Linked DNA regions of Homo sapiens: region 2 is linked to region 1. The links come from fine-mapping of genetic effects on plasma protein levels. A gene starts in region 1. The other region holds a variant in brackets. All regions are shown on one strand. Distances are from middle to middle.

Region 1 (8,320 bases):
AGTTATCTGTGTAATTTGGGGTTCAGATTAAATGCCTGCCTTAAGACAGCGTCAGTAAGAACTGAGGCTTAATGAAGTCCTGCACTTCCCATAGCATGCAACAACAAAAAAGAGAGATGACAGTATTTCAGATCCACTGTTGCTTGGAAATTTTGTTAGAATTTCTTGTAAAATATGTGTTTAACAGAAATCCTGCCAGCATTTACAGTTTTAAATCTTTAAGGAAAGGACACAAAAGCAAAGTTGGAAAAAATTTTAGCTTTACCATTATTTGCTTGTTCAAGATTCTTAACCATTAATATCTTTAATTTTTACAAGGCTAAAGGAGCCCCAAATCTAACAAACTTAAGTGTCTTTGGTTTAAGGCATACTATTGGTAACGAGTAATTTTATCTTTAATAGTTTTTATAATGCATGTAAAAAAAGCTCCCAGATAGAATATTGAAGGAAACCTCTTATGTGTGCTTAACAAAATTATTTCTACCTAAAATATTACATATTTTTGGCCTTTTAGTCATGAATTTAATTACATCTTCTGGGTTCTTATTTTCTATTGTTAATACCACTTACATAATGCTTTTGTGTGTATATCAATAACTTAGCTTTTCCAAGTGATTCCATTTGTAGCAAGTTTAATTTCTGTCATCCAAATTAAATTACTATTACATGTAAGCCTGGAAAGCTATTTAAAATTTTGAGTTGGAACAAGAAATGCCATAGATTAATCTTAAATCTGTACAAGAATTTCTGCTTAATATTTGGTTATACTGTAATTGAGATTTTGTTGCAAAGACTTTCAACTATTTTTGTATCTTAGCTTTGTTTTATGACTACACTGAGAAATCCAACAGTTTATGTATATCTTCAGCACACACACTGTGGCTGCAGGAAGAGAAACTAATTGTGTTCACGACTATTTAGTTTGTATTCCTTTGTTTTTAATCATTGTGCTGTAAGCCTTATACATTTAATCTGTTACTTGTTAAAATTTCTTTCTACTGTCACTAAAGCACTTGTTTTCAGAAACCCAGCATGGCATGCATGTATCAGTCTGTAATCATATACACTAAACATCATTAAATTGAACCTCAAATAATGCATTAACCATTGCACAGTACTTAATGTTTTTATGTCAAGTTGCAAGATAAAACCTTTTTCAGATGAGATAAACTGTAGTATATTCCAAAGGTCTTTGTTTAGTAAAAGATTCTGAAATTTCTACTACAAATATAAAATAGTTATGCATTTGCTATACATAATATTTTTAAATAAAAGAAATATTAAATACCTTTTTGTGTCTGTTGATTCAGTGAATCCAGAAACTTGCTGCCCTTATTCTTGATTTTAAAAATCAGTGTAGAAGTTTGTTCATCTGTGACTTTAATGGCAGCTGCATTTTTGTTTTGGACCGTTGAATCCAAGCTGTAAGAAGGAACTTCTTTTTCCTTTTACAATACTAATCAATTGAATTTGACAAGCCACCTATGTAATTTTAAGTAGTATAGTGGAAGTTCTGGTCTGTGGGCCGTCTTTAATCCAGCAGAGAAAGCGTTGTGGCTTTGCTCTGTCTGCCACATGGAGAAATGCAGTAACCAGCTGCAGCTGACCCAGATTGTATATACAGTACCCCTGAATAGTGATTCCCTCTTTCTCAGTAGACTCAAGTTCAGCCCACATATTACATCACCAAAAATTGCTGGAGACTGGGGGCGGGAATCTCCTTAGGATTTCCTCTTTGTAGCCTTAAATAGGGGGGTGGGATCAGCAGGAGGTTGAATAGTTTTGAACAAGGAGAGATTGTGTGCAGGTTGAAGGAAGGGCACCATCTGGAAACAAACTATCATAGTTCAGCGGGCAATTATAAAACAAACATTTTAGTCTGCTGGCCAGAGATCTTTTAAGTTGAATACCGAAAAAAAAAATAGTGCTCCACTTCACTTAGAAGTAGTTGCAGGCTGATGAGTTTGGTTTTTGTTAACAAAGAACAAGAGCTAGACTTTGTCAGGAGGCAGCCACCTAAATAATGTAATAAATACTCTTTATAGCCTAGAAGAATTTGTAAACATTTTACTAAGTTGCTAATGAAGGTTTTAAACTTACAAGAAACTTGATGTTGTTGTAGTATGTTATGTCTTACTGTGTAATGTGTCTTAAGATAAAACAGCCTTTATATATAATTACCAAACATAAGTGAAATTCTTTCAGATGCTTAAGACTTTTAAATATTACATTCTGGTGTTACATAATGTCATATCCTCCTATTCTACAAAATGACCTCTCCTCTCTGTAAAAGGTCATTCTTGTTATTAATTGATGTGGTGTGGTTTAAAAACAAACATAACCCTGAACTGAGTAAAAAACAAGGAAGCTCTGACTCTATGCCAGCTATGTGAACTTAGACAAATCACTTTACCTGCCTCTGGCAAGGTTCTTCTGCTATGAAATAAGGTGGTGGAAGAAATGAATAAGTGTTGAGTACAACTATACTATTGTATTTCATTAATTGAAGAAATGTTAAATAACTCAGTAGCTGAAGAAACACAAACTTAGGCTTAAGTAACTTAGCTTAGCACTTAAGTACTAAGTAGTGGAACTGGGATTTGAATCTAATGCCAAAGCATTATGCCACACTCTCTGTCATTGATTACCTAGTTGCTGTAAGCTGCTTCTAGATAAAACTTTTGGGCTTTCTCTACATACCTGTGCTTTCCCTTCCTTATTGCTGTAGCTTGTGCTGTGTTTCTCTTTCTGTTAGGCCACACTGTTGATCCACATCCTTTATTTAAAGTCTGAGCTTATTTTCTACCTCTTTCACAGAATCATTTATTTGAATTCCTATGCCATATATAGGTATACCAGAGGTTGCAAACACAAGGGCCTAGAAAGGCAAATGCTCACAAGAAGAATGGAGCAGGTAATATAAATCAGTGAAGTAAATCAGTAGTAAGATACTGGAGGGAAATGAAGTTTATGGCAAGTTGGCATCCTTTTGGTTAATTTAAAGGGATCTGCCTGCACCTTCTCAGCTGTGCTTGTGGCCATGAAGGATTATGAGACAGTGTTGCCAGATCTTCCCATTATTCAGGAAAAAAGAGCCATTTAGATTTTTCCTGTAATACTTCCTGATTTTAAAAAACATTGGGACAGATGTGCTGCCAGCTTCTGGCCTCTGATTTGTATTATGTATCGTTTCTTGAGCATTCAGTAATTATGTTGTAGTCACTAATGGCTTAAATCTGGGAAAAATAAGAGATAATAAATTCTTTCTGAGCTTTTAAACTTTCAGCAGTTTGGAGCTTTCTAACTTGAGCACTTAGTAATATCACTAGCCAGGGTAGGAAATTGGAATGACAGGTATTTAGGGACAGATTATGGTTAGATATGTTAAATTGAAAATGAAAGTCAGGAGCTCAGTTATATGGAGAGATTTGAAAGTCACCAGCAATTAGGTAGTAGCTAAAGCTATGGAACTAAGATACTAGAGAAAGTACATGTAGAATGTAAAGGAAGGTTAATGACAGACCATGATACCAATTTCCAGGAAACCAGCTTACAAGAAACATGAGGAAAAAGAAGAATGGTGGGGGCTTAGGGGGAAGATACGAAAGTTCAAGGTAGGGAAAACCTGAGAACTAGACGAGAATGGTTACAATACTGCAGAGACATTACATAGGGAGGGGAGACCAAGAGAGATGTTTTAAGACTTAGAATGAGAAAGTTATTAATGCCATTGCCAAAATAAGTGATACATACAGATTTCAGATTATTTAGTGTGTTGAAGGGTGACTAGATAAAATTTAACTGACAAATTAGTGTCCACAATACATTAAGAAATTAGAAATCCATAAGAAAAAGACAACCCAAAAGAAAAAATGAACAGAAACATTTATTACATAGAAATATATACGTTTAACCTTATTACTAATCAAGGAAATAAAAATTAAGACACAGAGAGATACCATTTTATACTCAGAAGATTGGCAAAATTGAGATGGATAATACCAATTGTTAGCACAAATGTGGATCAACAGAAGCTTATATACCGTGAGTGGGAGTATGAATTGATACAGCTTTGAAAAATAATGTGACACCATCTTGTAAAGTTGAATATTAATATACTTTAGCACTTGGCAGTTTTGCTCCTAGGCATGTTTGTATATCCTGAAGAAATTTTGTACATGTGTACTGGGAGATGTGTATAAGAATGTCTATAGCAACATGGTTGGGGGTGGGATGGGAGTAACTCAAAAGTCTATCAAATAAAATGGATGAGTTACAATTGTCACACATTAGCTTGTTCTCATTATAAGGAATTACAGCAGCATTTAACAGCGTGGACAAGTCTTAGAAACAAAATAGACGAAGCAACCACAGAAGACCATATTTTTAAATTTTATTTAATAAATGCTTATAAATCACTTGGTATGTACTAGACACTTTTTTTTTGAGACGGAGTCTTGCTCTGTCACCCAAGCGGGAGTGCAGTGGTACGATCTCGGCTCACTACAAGCTCCGCCTCCTGGGTTCTCGCCATTCTCCTGCCTCAGCCTCCCATACTAGACACTTTTCTAACATTACAAATACTATTATTTAATCCACACATACAATAAAATATGATTTTTAAAGCTCAAAAATAGGCAAAAGTAGGAATACAGACAAATGTCGGGGAAAAAATAAGGGAATGATCTTAAAGTTCAAGGTAATGGTTACTTCTGGACAGGAAGCAAGGAGATGAAGTAGAGAAGGAACATACAGATAGATGCAACAGTATTGATGATGTCGTAGTTCTTTTTTAAAGTAGTTTACCCCAACATATTAAAATATTAACATGTAACCAATAAAAAAGTTAATAGATATTTTACATTAATTTTTCATGTTAACTCTTCAAAATCTTGTCTATTTTATATTCAAATACACCTCAATTCAGAATAGACCCACGAAACAGTAGTCACATGTGGCAAGTGGTTATATTGGACAGCACAGTATAGCGAGTGACTACAGGCGAGTTGTCATCTGAGTTTAATAAGATGGAAGAATGGCAAGAACTGGCACATTAGTACCCCGCTCAAATCCCACTTCTTCCTTGAAGCTTTCTCTGATCCCATCAGCAAGGAATGACATTTTTTTGCACAGAATTCTTATGAAACTCCTGTTTAAACTTTTCTGTGCTACTTTTTTATATCTTCTATTGCTGTTATTGATGTACATATGCCAACATCCCCGTGCCATTTCCTTGAGGAATCTTTTAGCTCTCCTTAGGGATGTTGTAGTCATAAGTTGACTGGTCTTTCACAAATGTTTATTATGTTGTTTGATAACAACAAGTGTCACATGTGTTGATAATTTTTTCTTAGGGCAGGAGTCTCACCATGTTGCCCAGACTGGTCTCAAACTCCTAAGCAGTCTGCCCGCCTCAGCCTCCCGAAGTGCTGAGATTACAGGCATGAGCCACCGTTCCCGGCAATAATTTTTGTGAAATCACGATTCTCACACAAATATGAAATGAATATGTGTCAGAATTTTCATTTAAATTATTAAATTTATAAGGGAATCAAAAATGTGTCAAGGGAGAATTCAAAGTAACACACATATATGCAATCAGGAACGCTGAAGTAAATTTACAAATAGTTGCAAAATTGGTCATCACTGATTAGATCCCACTGGACATAATTCTTTGGCATGTTTATGGACAATAATTTGTATTACCAGTTTTCAACAGCTGTGCAGAGTTGTAAAATAGCTCAGAAGGACCAAATGGGTGCACTGGAGACAGGATACCCAGTAATCTTTTTTCCCATCTCAAAGTTTTTCACAATTTTCCTGACACATGTGTATCAAATATTACATTAAAAATAGAACGAAGAATAAAAGAAGTGTACTATTGTATGTTTCTCTTCCAAGGTGTTTGTTGAAGGGAGGACAAGGATGTTATCTTGAGGCGTGGGATCAGATTTGAAGGAAGAGTTGCTTAGATTTTGTTTTATAAGTAGGGGAGATTTAAACATGTATATTGGGCCAGGTGCAGTGGCTCATGCCTGTAATCCTAGCACTTTGGGAGGCTGAGGCGGGTGGATCACTTGAGACCAGGAGTTCGAGACCAGCCTGGCCAACATGGTGAAACCCCATCTCTACTAAAAATGCAAGAACTACCCAGGCGTGGTTGCGCATGCCTGTCATCTCAGCTATTCGGGTGGCTGAGGCACAAGAATCACTTGAACCCAGAAGGCAGAGGTGGCAGTGAGCCGAGATCGCACCACTGCATTCCAGCCTGTGACAGAGCAAGACTCTTTCTTGAAAAAAAAAATGGTTTAAAAAAAAATATGTATACTGGCTCTGGGGAAGGAGCCAGTAGGGGTGAATGATAGTAGAGGCAACAGTGGTTGTCTGGAAGGAGGCAGCAACGATTGCATTCAAAATTACAGTTGAGATTTCGGAAGAAGAGAGAGATGATTCTTCCTCCAAGATTGGGGAAAGTGGGAAGAACCTCAGCTTCATTTGGAACCTCAAGATTCATTTGGAGTCATAGGGAAATAAAGTTGAGGTTATCTAAAGAAAAAAAAGTATGATAGGTGACTTAAAGAATACTGTAAAGATTTACTGAGTGGAAAATGAATGATACTAGGATGAGTAAAAAGATTGCCATGCCAACCTTTTATGTTAAGCACCTATTGTCAAAACATTGCACAAGATTTTCTTTCTCTTGGAGTGCAAGATAGAGCAACTGCCTTAAATGAGTTTGCAGTCTTGAATAGATAAGATATAAATGTAAAAAAAATAAGTAATGAGATTTTGAAGTCATAAAAGTCATTAAGTGAATAGTAAGCACACATAATGTATGATTTTTTAATAGAATATAAGTAATTTTTTTTTAAATTGGGCTATAAGTGAAACGTCTGAGATCCAGCTGTCACTAACAGGTTGCATGGCATTAGACAGGTCCCTTTACTATCTATGTATTTCAGGTTCTTCATCTATAAAAGGAGAGGATTAGACTAGACAGTGTCTGAATTCCTTTCTTGGAATCTGTGAGAAAACTAGAGAATATTGACACCGAATTAGATAAGCAAAATATAAGATTTGGATAGGCAGAGATAAGTCCAGAAAACATTTTAGGTATAAGAAAAAGCTGAGTAAAAACAGGGTTTATTTAGAAGGCAGTGGGTATGTCATTTTGGTTGCATTTACCCTGAGAGTACATGAACATGAAGTAATGGGGTAAAAGTAGGAAGGTATGTTTTTCTTTTCTCTCCAGCTATAGTTGTCTAATACATTTCACATGTGCATTGTGAACTCTCCAGAAATAAACTTAAATAAGTGACCTTTCATGTTAAGGACTAGTACAACCAAATTTTAGAGGATGTGTTATTTTTGTTGGTACAAAAAGCATGGAGGGTAAGAAATAGTTAACTTCAATTTGTAGTCACATGAACCATTTCAGAAATTTATTTGTTGATCTTTAAAATGTAAAACATTTCTACCAGATTGAGATAATTTTCAAAGTAGTTAAGACTCAAATGATAGCTATCAACTCAAGGCAAGAGAGTAAAAACAAATATTAAATAATTTCCCTATGTCAGTCAGTGGCTGGGCTGCTGGCTAAATTAATATCTTCAAGTTGTAACACACCTTGGAAAATGGATACTTGCATAGGTTTTAAGTCTGAGGTTCTCAGTTTAAAATAACTCTCCATTATGAAACTAGTCAGAGGCAGAGCCAATTGAAGAACTCAGCTCCTTTCCATTAATTCCCATATGTGCTGGAGTTTCTAACTCTAGCCTCAAACTATACTTGAAAATGAAATCACAAGAAGACATTTACAAAATAGCATATTATTACAAAAAATTGGTATATGTCTGACCCCAACTGTATGGAAAGCTAGGCCCCAGTAACCATATGTTACCCAGGCTTCAGTGTATTAATAGCAATATATTTTAAATGTAGCGTACAGTGGAATATATCTATAAACAACCCCTTCCCCCCTTTTCTTTGTCATAGTCTCCCAACCTACAACTAAGAAAACGTTCATTTATCTAATTGTATTTCAGGTATCTATTTGTCAGATTTAACATACATCGATTCAGCATACCCATCAACTGGCAGCATTCTAGAAAATGAGCAAAGATCAAATTTAATGAATAATATCCTTCGAATAATTTCTGATTTACAGCAGTCTTGTGAATATGGTAAGTTTCTAGGGGATAATGCCAAGCCATTAAGATTGCTGTAATCCAGTGATTTATTTACACACACTGATGATCACTTTTCACACAGCAGGGGACATCAATTTCTTATTTCCATTCTAATGTAAAGGAAAATAATG
Region 2 (8,337 bases), 330 kb before region 1:
TCAAGTCCTGGCCATCAAAATTAATCCAGAGTGACAGAAGTCAAAATAGGGTTACCTTTAGAGTGCAAGGATGACAGGGAGGATTCTAGAGTGCTGATGCCCTATTCCTGATCTCGTGGTGGGGATATGGGTGTGTACTATGTGTAAAAATTCATCAAACTGAATATGTCAAATGGTGATGCTGCTTTGGAAAACAGTTTGGCAGTTCCTCAAAAATGGAACATGGAGGCCGGGCGTGGTGGCTCACGCCTGTAATCCTAGAACTTTGGGAGGCCGAGGTGGGTGGATCACCTGAGGTTAGGAGTTCGAGACCAGCCTGGCCAACAGGGTGAAACCCCGTCTCTACTAAAAATACAAAAATTAGCCAGGCATGGTGGTGAGCACCTGTAATTCTAGTTACTTGGGAGGCTGAGGCAGGAGAATCACTGGAAACCGGGAGGTGGAGGCTGCAGTGAGCCGAGATCAAGCCACTGCACTCCAGCCTGGGCAACAATGCCAGACTCCATCTCAAAAAAAAAAAAAAAAAAAAAAAAGGAGGGGTAATCTATAGACTAAAACAGACTAAAAAGTTATATCAGCCAGTTTCAACATCTGCATCTCATTTGTACCCTGATTCAAATTCTTTTTTTTTTTTTAGACAGAGTTTCACTCTTGTTGCCCAGGCTGGAGTGCAATGGCGCCATCTCAGCTTACTGCAACCTCTGCCTTCCGCATTCAAGTGATTCTCCTGCCTCAGCCTCCCAAGTAACTGGGATTAGAGGCACTTACCACCACGCTCGGCTAATTTTTGTATTTTTAGTAGAGATGGGGTTTCACCCTGTTGGCCAGGCTGGTCTCGAACTCCTGGCCTCAGGTGATCCACCTGCCTTGGCCTCACAAAGTGCTGGGATTACAGGCATGAGCCACTGTGCCTGGCTCAAATTCTTTTTAATAATTCACACAGGACAGTTTTAAGACAATTGGGAAATTTAAATTCTAGGAATTATTGCTAGTTTTGCTGTGCAGTAGAATGGTGGTTATGATACCCAAGAAGTTCTTTTCGAGTGATCTGCTAAAACATTCACAGATAAAATAGTATGATATCTGGTATTTGACTGAAAATAATAGAAGATGGAGTGAACTGATGGGTGTGGGGATGGGGCTGGGTTAAGCCATTGCTGGGGCAGGAGAGTGGGTAGGTTTGTAGTAGTTCATGATACTATCCTGTCTACTTTTGTGTATGTTCGAGTCTCCAAAGTTAATAAAGCTAAAACAAAGATATATATAGATCAAAAAATATATATGATGTATAACAAAGTATTTCTCCAGAGAAACAAATATAAACAAAATGGAACAGATTGAGAATCCATAATTATGTAAGAACAAGATCTTTCTCATCTCAGCCAGTTTTTCCATAACTAGGTTTTTTGGCAATGTGTGTTTCACAAGCTGGGACTCTCAACTCCTAATCCAGAAAATTAAGCAGAAACTTACAGATTACTAAAACCCAAGGAGAAAGAGTTGGATGCAGAAAAATTTATGGAAGATTCTGGGTCAGAAATGAGCAAGTGTTCACACCAGAAGGTCCTCTACTGAAGGCATGAGCCAGGCTGCAGACGTGCTGGTGACTGAATTGGATATGAAAATAGCATATCTGTCTGGCATCCTCCTTCCTCACAGAATTGGATGGCAGATCCCTGGTTCTCAGGACCATTGAACATTAAAACCACCTGGGGGCTGGGCACAGTGGCGCACACCTGTGATCCCAGCACCTTGGGAGGCCGAGGCGGGTGGATCGCTTCAACTCAGGAGTTTGAGACCAGCCTGGGCAAGATGGGGAAACTCCATCTCTACAAAACAAACAAACAAACAAACAAACAAACAAACATCCCACCTGAGGAGCTCTGAAAACATACAGATGCCCAGGCCCATCCTGGACCAATTAGATTGAGATCTCTGCAGGAGGGAGGCCTGGGGTTTCAGTGGTTTCAAATGCTCCTCGGGTGATTCTAACCTGCAGCCAGAGTTGAGACTTGTGGTGTTAGGACAGGCAAGATTGGGATTTAAGCTGGTGTGCCCATATTTAAAAACAGCTGGGTGAACGAGCTGGGAAATGGTGGCAGCCATGGCTGCCAACTCAATGACAAATTGAGTTGATAGGTGAGACACTGGGTGTCACCTTTAATCTGTTTGCTGTGAGTCACCTGAGGTCATTTGGAGCCACTGTGTCCAACCTGAGTCACTTCTCTCTGGGACTCTGGGGTGTGGCTAAGATCCTAGTAGGCCGAAGGTTGGCTGCTTTGGACTGAGCTGTGGGCTTCTATGCTGCAGGCTTTGGCAAGCGCATATCAAGTACAAGCGTAAACAGCTGGTCAGCAGAAGACACAGTCTGGATAAAGCTGGGGAGGGAAGAGTTGTGGAGTGCACGAAGATTGGCCTCCTGCTTCATGCTGGGCTGTGAGTCAACCCAAAGTAACACTCAGCAGCTGAACAGGCAGTGCCAAGCCCAGATTCCATCTCCACAGCAATGAGATTCCTCCCCCAGCATCCGTGTCTAGCGCTGAATAGTGTGACTTTCATCCCTGCCACAGCAGAAAGTCAAACTGGCTAATTGGCAGGGAACAGAGAGATTTAAAGCAAACGCGTCAGGAGCCACTGATCCCCGACGACTGTGGGGAGGGGAGACACGTAGTTTCTAAGCAATCGCGACACGTTATGGGAAACTGTGATTCAAGTTTCCCAAATTCTATTCTCAGGTATTAGCTGTGGCACAGAGCAAGGCCCCCTTCCCTGCAACTTCCTTGCCACTCAGGTCGGTGGGAGGGACAGCTCGAAGCTAGGATGAGTGTTGCTTAACCTTTTGCCTGTCCAACAGGAGCCAATCACTTCCAGGACATCTTGATCCAGAGGGAAGGCACCTGCCCCCAACACGGGGTTTGTGGCTGAGCTGGCCTTGCGTCATGCCCGCCTGCTCCAGGTGTGACTTGCACTTTGACCTTCTCTTTGCCTGAGCCCCACCAGTTTACCTGTTCTGACCACTGACCAGCTCAGCACTGCTCACAGTGCCCCAGCATTGGGGTCCCTCTTGCTTGGCCTCTTTCAGAAACTTCCCTTCTCAGGCGGCCTTTTCAGGTGTGGCCTGGGACCTCTGCCTCTCTGCCTCTGGCCCCAGAGGTCCCGGCCTCACTTATCTGCTGCCAGAAAATGAGAAGGCAAGGCTCTGTAACCAATCAATCGGCCAGCCGGCCAAGGAAATATTGAAGACTCATAAAGAGCTTTGAGAGAGACGTATTTGGGAAGCGCTATCTGTAGGAGGCGGA[G/A]TGCTCTGGGTGTGAGGGGGAGATGCAGGGGCTATGGACTCAGGACTGATTCTTGAAGGAGGTGGGGCTAGGATGAGGTGAGAAGGATGAGCATATTAATTTGGTGGTGAGAAGAGGTGGGACAGGGTGGCTGAGTGTGTGGGGACCAGAGAAGAGGCAGGAGTGAGTGCGTGCTGAGAACACTCGTGGGTGGGGTGATACCCCCAAATACTTAACCATGGGCCCTGACCCACCAGAATCTGTGCCAGGTAGGACCCTTAGCTGCTAGGTTGTGGGGACACCTGGCCAGTCCTGGGAAAGGACCAGGAGAATGATGGGCAGGTGGCCACTGGGTCGGAGGTGGGGGCAGCTCAGGGCAGCAGCTGTTTACCAACCAGTATGGAAGTGGTTCAATATTTTATTAACTATAAAGGACCCTAAAGAGTGTGCAGTAACAGAATCCTCACCATGCCCGTGGGATGGGGCAGCGACATGGCCGCAACACCCCACCATGAGATGTGAGCTCAGCACTCAGACACTCTGAGGGGATGAGCTGTGTACTTGTCTGCAGGAGGACACAGTCATGAGTCAGAAGCTGCTGTTTTCCTTCCTTGGAAAGGAAGGTACGTTCCAGCATAGTGCAGGGGGCCCCTCAGGCCACCCCAGGCTTAGGGGAAGCTGAGCTGCCTCTATCCTTGCCCAGCCATTCCCAGCTTCCCCCTCTGCAGCCCTGGCCCCACCTGGGCGTGGCTCCCACAGCGGTGTGGGATAGAGAGGCTCTCAGGCTCCCCTGTGAGTCTGACTCCAATTCCTGTTGGTCTTGTAAAGTCAGAAGAAATCCCAGTGATGACAAGAGTATAAAACAAGACTTGTCAAACTTCATTTTGAGCCAGGAAAATCACAGGATTGTCATCGGGACAGGGGTTGTTGTTGTGACCTCTGTAGTTGGTCTGGCTGCTGCATAGTCGCTCTCGCTGAAAGCCACAAGACTTTGCTGGAAGGAAAGCCTTCCTCCCTCGATATGGAGGGCTCCGAGCTTCACAGGCAACCGCAAGGATCTGGCATGTGTCACACAGCAATGCTTCGACAGGCCAGGAATCCCACCTTCAGGGACCCCCAACAGAAGAAGAATCCCAAGTGCTGACACTGTAGAGCAGACGTCAGCTGCAAGCTCAGCACAGCCACTGCAGTGAGAGGTCTTGGTGGAAGCGACAGAGCTGACCTGGCTGACTCGTGCAGGCAATGGACATGGGGAAATATGTGCAGAACTTATCAGTCGGAAGGCTGGAGAACCGCATGGGGAAAATGGGCAGGTATCAAGGCGGCTGGCAGCAGGAGATGCAGGCGAGGCCAAGCTGTGGCCAGGCTGTGGTGAGGATACCGTGGCCGGGACTGCTGCCACAGGACACAGGATGCTACTCTCACAGATGGTCTCCTGGCCTAGCTGCCATGGCCAAAAATAAGTTCTCTTCTGTTCCTGCACCCTAGCCTTCAAAGCCCCACTGGGCTGGGCAGGATAGGAAGGCTGTGACCTCTGCAGGGGTGGGGGACAAGAGGGACACCTGGTTCCTTCCATTCCTTCCATTTCCAGAGGGGCTGATGGATTCCTGCCAAGAGTCACCGGGGAATCCTCCCAAATAGAATGGATGCTGGAAGCTGGACCGCCAAAACAAACAGAACAATAGCAACAAATGCCCATTATATATTGGGGAAGCAATTGTGTCGATGGAAACAATAGAACGAGCTAGTTTTGTCTTTAAACCTAGGAAATAAGGCCAGGCATGGTGGCTCATGCCTGTAATCCCAGCACTATAGGGGGCTGAGGAGGGTGGATCACTTGAGGTCAGGAGTTCGAGACCAGGCTGGCCAACATGGTGAAACCCGGTCTCCACTAAAAATACAAAAATTAGCCAGGTGTGGTGGTGCACACCTGTAATCCCAGCTACTCAGAAGGCTGAGGCAGGAGAATCGCTTGAACCCGGGAGGCAGAGGTTGCAGTGAGTTGAGATCACGCCATTGCATTCCAGCCTGGGCGACAGAGAAAGAGTCCATCTCAAAACGAAAACAAAAACAAAAAACACCAAAAAAACAAATAAATCTAGGAAATAGATGAATAACATCACCTCCCAGGTGAATAAGAGAGCAAAAGACTCTGTGGGTTCATCCTCTCATTCCTCAGGGGAACCATTTCCAAATGAGACATGTACACAGGCAATACCTGCAGGGCGAGCTGCATTCTACATAGACATTCAAAACCGTCTCAATTCAAAACCGTCTCGATTCAGAGGAGTGCAGCTCCTATCTCATGCAGACAGAGAGGGTGGGGTGACTGCATCAGAGGTCTGGTCAGGACTTGAGAGATACAGTGAAATTTGATTGTGGCTGGTGGATGAAGTAAGGTTTGATAGAAATAGAATGGCCCATGCATGTCCTCTGGGGACCCACGGACACCCTGAAATTGTATGCAAAATGTTGCGTGTGTGTTCATGTACTTTTTCTGGAACAAGGTGACAGCCTTTATTGAATCCTCAAACAAAAACAAGCACTGCTCTAGAATAATATTTCCTAAACACACTCATCACCCGACACCCCAAGGCTTGACAGGATGCTCTAAAGTATCCATTTCTGTCCTCATCCGTTCACATGCAGCATTTAATCCCACTTCCCAGCCTTCTGCCCTCTTCTCCTGTCTCCTCTCCATGCTTAACACGCCAGCCCCAGATGCTCCTCCTTGCCACCCAGGGCCTGAGTCATACATCCATCTGCTGAGCTAAATATCTCTACTTGGATGTTTAAAAGGCACCTCAGCCTGAATTCATTCCAACTAGAACTCTTGATTCACACCCCCACGGAAAAACCCCATTCCTCCCCCGGGCTCATCTAGCTCAGTTCACGGCATTTCTCTTTCTGTAAAGCCGGGGAAGTGTGCAGTGGTGAAGTGCTGGGTCCAAATTCCAGCTTTTCCATTTGCTAATGGTGGGACTTTATGCAAACTGATTCAACTCTCTGGGCCTCGATTGCCTCTTCTGTAAAATGTGGGAAGAACTAATTCCTAATTCATAGGAGTGTTATGAAATCTAGACAGGTTAAACTATGTGAAGGGTTTAGAGGAGCGCCTGGCTAACCGTATTAGCCACTGTCATTCTTTTTCTTCCAGTTGCTCAGGACAAATCCTAAGAATGATGCTTATTTCTCTCTTTCCCTCATGCACCACACCCAAGCTCATCAGCAATTCCTGTCCATTCCACCTTCAGATACAGATCACAAATCTGACCTCCTCTCCCCATCTCTGTTGCTACCCTACTCGCCTGGGCCGCATGGTCACTTGTGGTGGTCTCCTAACTGCTCCCCTTGTGTCTACCATGGCCATCATCCCCACACCAGCTCTCCAGGTGGCAGCCAGAGTGATCTTACAAAACCGTAGGTCAGGTCATTGCCCCCTGTCAGACTCAAGCCCATCACAGCCCTTGCTATGCTGACAGGCCCATCCCACCCCAGCCCGCTCCCCCCACCACCTGCCCCCCTCCGCCACCTCACCTGTGCCTTCTGCACGCCTCTCCCACCACTCCCCCTCCCTCCCTTTACTCTGGCCACTCTGAATGTCACTGGTCCTCCTTGAGCCCTCCTGAGCCCTCTGCCCAGAGTAATGCCAGAGTGGAGGCCACAGCTGAAGGCAGAGGCTGTTGGCCTGGGGTGGAGAGGGGAGATTCCTCTGGGTGGAAGGTGACATTGGGCAGCCTTGGATGAAGTGAATACCTGGTGTGGGGAAGCAAAAATAAATAGAGAAACAAACGGATTAATTTTGCTTCTTTCCAGGGACTTGATTTTCTACAAGTGCTGCTCCAAGAGGCTTCTACACCCCCGCAGGGAGGCAAGCACCGTTTTGAGGTGGCCGGGCTGGCGAGGAGGTGCAGACCCCAGCCAGCTGGAGGGGCTCTGCCCTGATGGCGTTCCCACTCCCACCTCATTCGCAGGGCGCCGGGGAGGGCTGCAGGTGTTCTATTCCCACCCGGCTTGCAGCGCAAGGAGGGGAATCGCCTGACACCTTCCCCTTCTCCTCTGCCCCGCTTCCTTTCTCTGCTCCCACAGGTGGAAGTCACCAGCGGAAACAACCCTTCACTGTATGGAGGGCTGGGAGAGAGGGGCCAAGAGGGCCCCGGGAGAGCCACTGGGCGGCAGGCAAGGGGCGGGGCAGTCTCCCTTCCGGCTTCCGGGACCGAAGGGTGAAGGGCAAGGGGAGCTCAGGGAATGAACGAGTGCTCCCGACTAATGTTTAACCCACGACTCCGAGACTCCGACTGGTCACAGTCCTGCAGACCTCCAGGTCCTGCACAGGCGACGCAGCGCTCCACTGGCCCGGAATGCGCACCCCGGGGGAAATGGAAAGTGCCATTGAAATGTCAGATGTCACCGTCTTCATCAGCACTCTTGGAATTTTGGCCAAAGTGGCTTCTTCTTTTGCTGAGACTTGACTCACTCCCGGCAGAGGGATGATAGCGGCCTTGCCCCGAGCGTTTATCCGGCTGCAGGCGTCATTCTTGGTCGCCTGTGTGTCCAGAGCCCCAGCGCAGGAAGGGAGCGCAATTCCCACCGCGCCCGCTGGGTGGCGCTAGCGCCGCACCGTGTCCCGGGATGAGGGGAAACCGCGCTGCCCAGTCAGTACCCCGACGCCCCCGCGCCCCCGCCGGGCCCCGCGCGCTGCAGCCACCGCCTCTTCTCGGCTTCCTCTTGCTTTACAGTAACTCTCCTCCTGGGGAAAAGGCTTTTCACGGAGCAGGCTCGGAGCCTACGGGGCTGGCCTCGGACTGGATGGGGGTAAGGACGGGTGGCGGCGCTCGCGCCGAGCGAACGGAGGGCTCAGGCGGCCGGTGATCAGGGACGGGCTGCGGCCGCCGTCTGGGGTGAGAGGCCCACCCAGAGCTCTGGGCCAGGGCTCGCGGCTCTCGTGCAGATGCTGGGCCGGGAGGTGTGGGGAGGGGGCTTCCCAGGCGGGGCAACCGGAGGGGAATGGGGTGTGCAGGAGGGAGGGGAGGCGTGGAGCGCCCGGCCTGCAGGCACT

Alleles and levels. Alleles are on the strand shown, and positions count from the first base shown. The strength of an association depends on the size of the effect and on how common the allele is.
As copies of G replace A in region 2, the plasma level of the protein whose gene starts at base 1,625 in region 1 goes up (weak association).

The links. PIP is the chance, under the fine-mapping model, that this variant and not a neighbour inherited with it causes the effect. The UK Biobank Pharma Proteomics Project read protein levels with antibody pairs (Olink). The fine-mapping took linkage between variants from a reference panel, not from the people measured, so its PIPs are less certain.
Region 2: its variant is fine-mapped to the plasma level of the ANGPTL1 protein (UK Biobank, PIP above 0.99).

The regions. Positions count from the first base shown.
Region 1 is chr1:178,869,453-178,877,772 of GRCh38, forward strand. It overlaps ANGPTL1 (angiopoietin like 1), which reads right to left and starts at 1,625. Exons shown (of 6, transcript NM_004673.4): 1 at 1,289-1,625. It overlaps RALGPS2 (Ral GEF with PH domain and SH3 binding motif 2), which reads left to right. Exons shown (of 20, transcript NM_152663.5): 9 at 8,046-8,183.
Region 2 is chr1:178,534,793-178,543,129 of GRCh38, forward strand. It overlaps C1orf220 (chromosome 1 putative open reading frame 220), which reads left to right and starts at 8,004. Exons shown (of 3, transcript NR_033186.1): 1 at 8,004-8,093. It overlaps LOC124904460 (a long non-coding RNA gene), which reads right to left and starts at 7,853. Exons shown (of 2, transcript XR_007066748.1): 1 at 7,242-7,853; 2 at 5,771-7,034. RefSeq lists enhancers at 1,597-2,796, 7,699-7,758 and silencers at 7,809-8,138, 8,169-8,238. The variant G/A (reference allele first, on the strand shown) is at 3,300.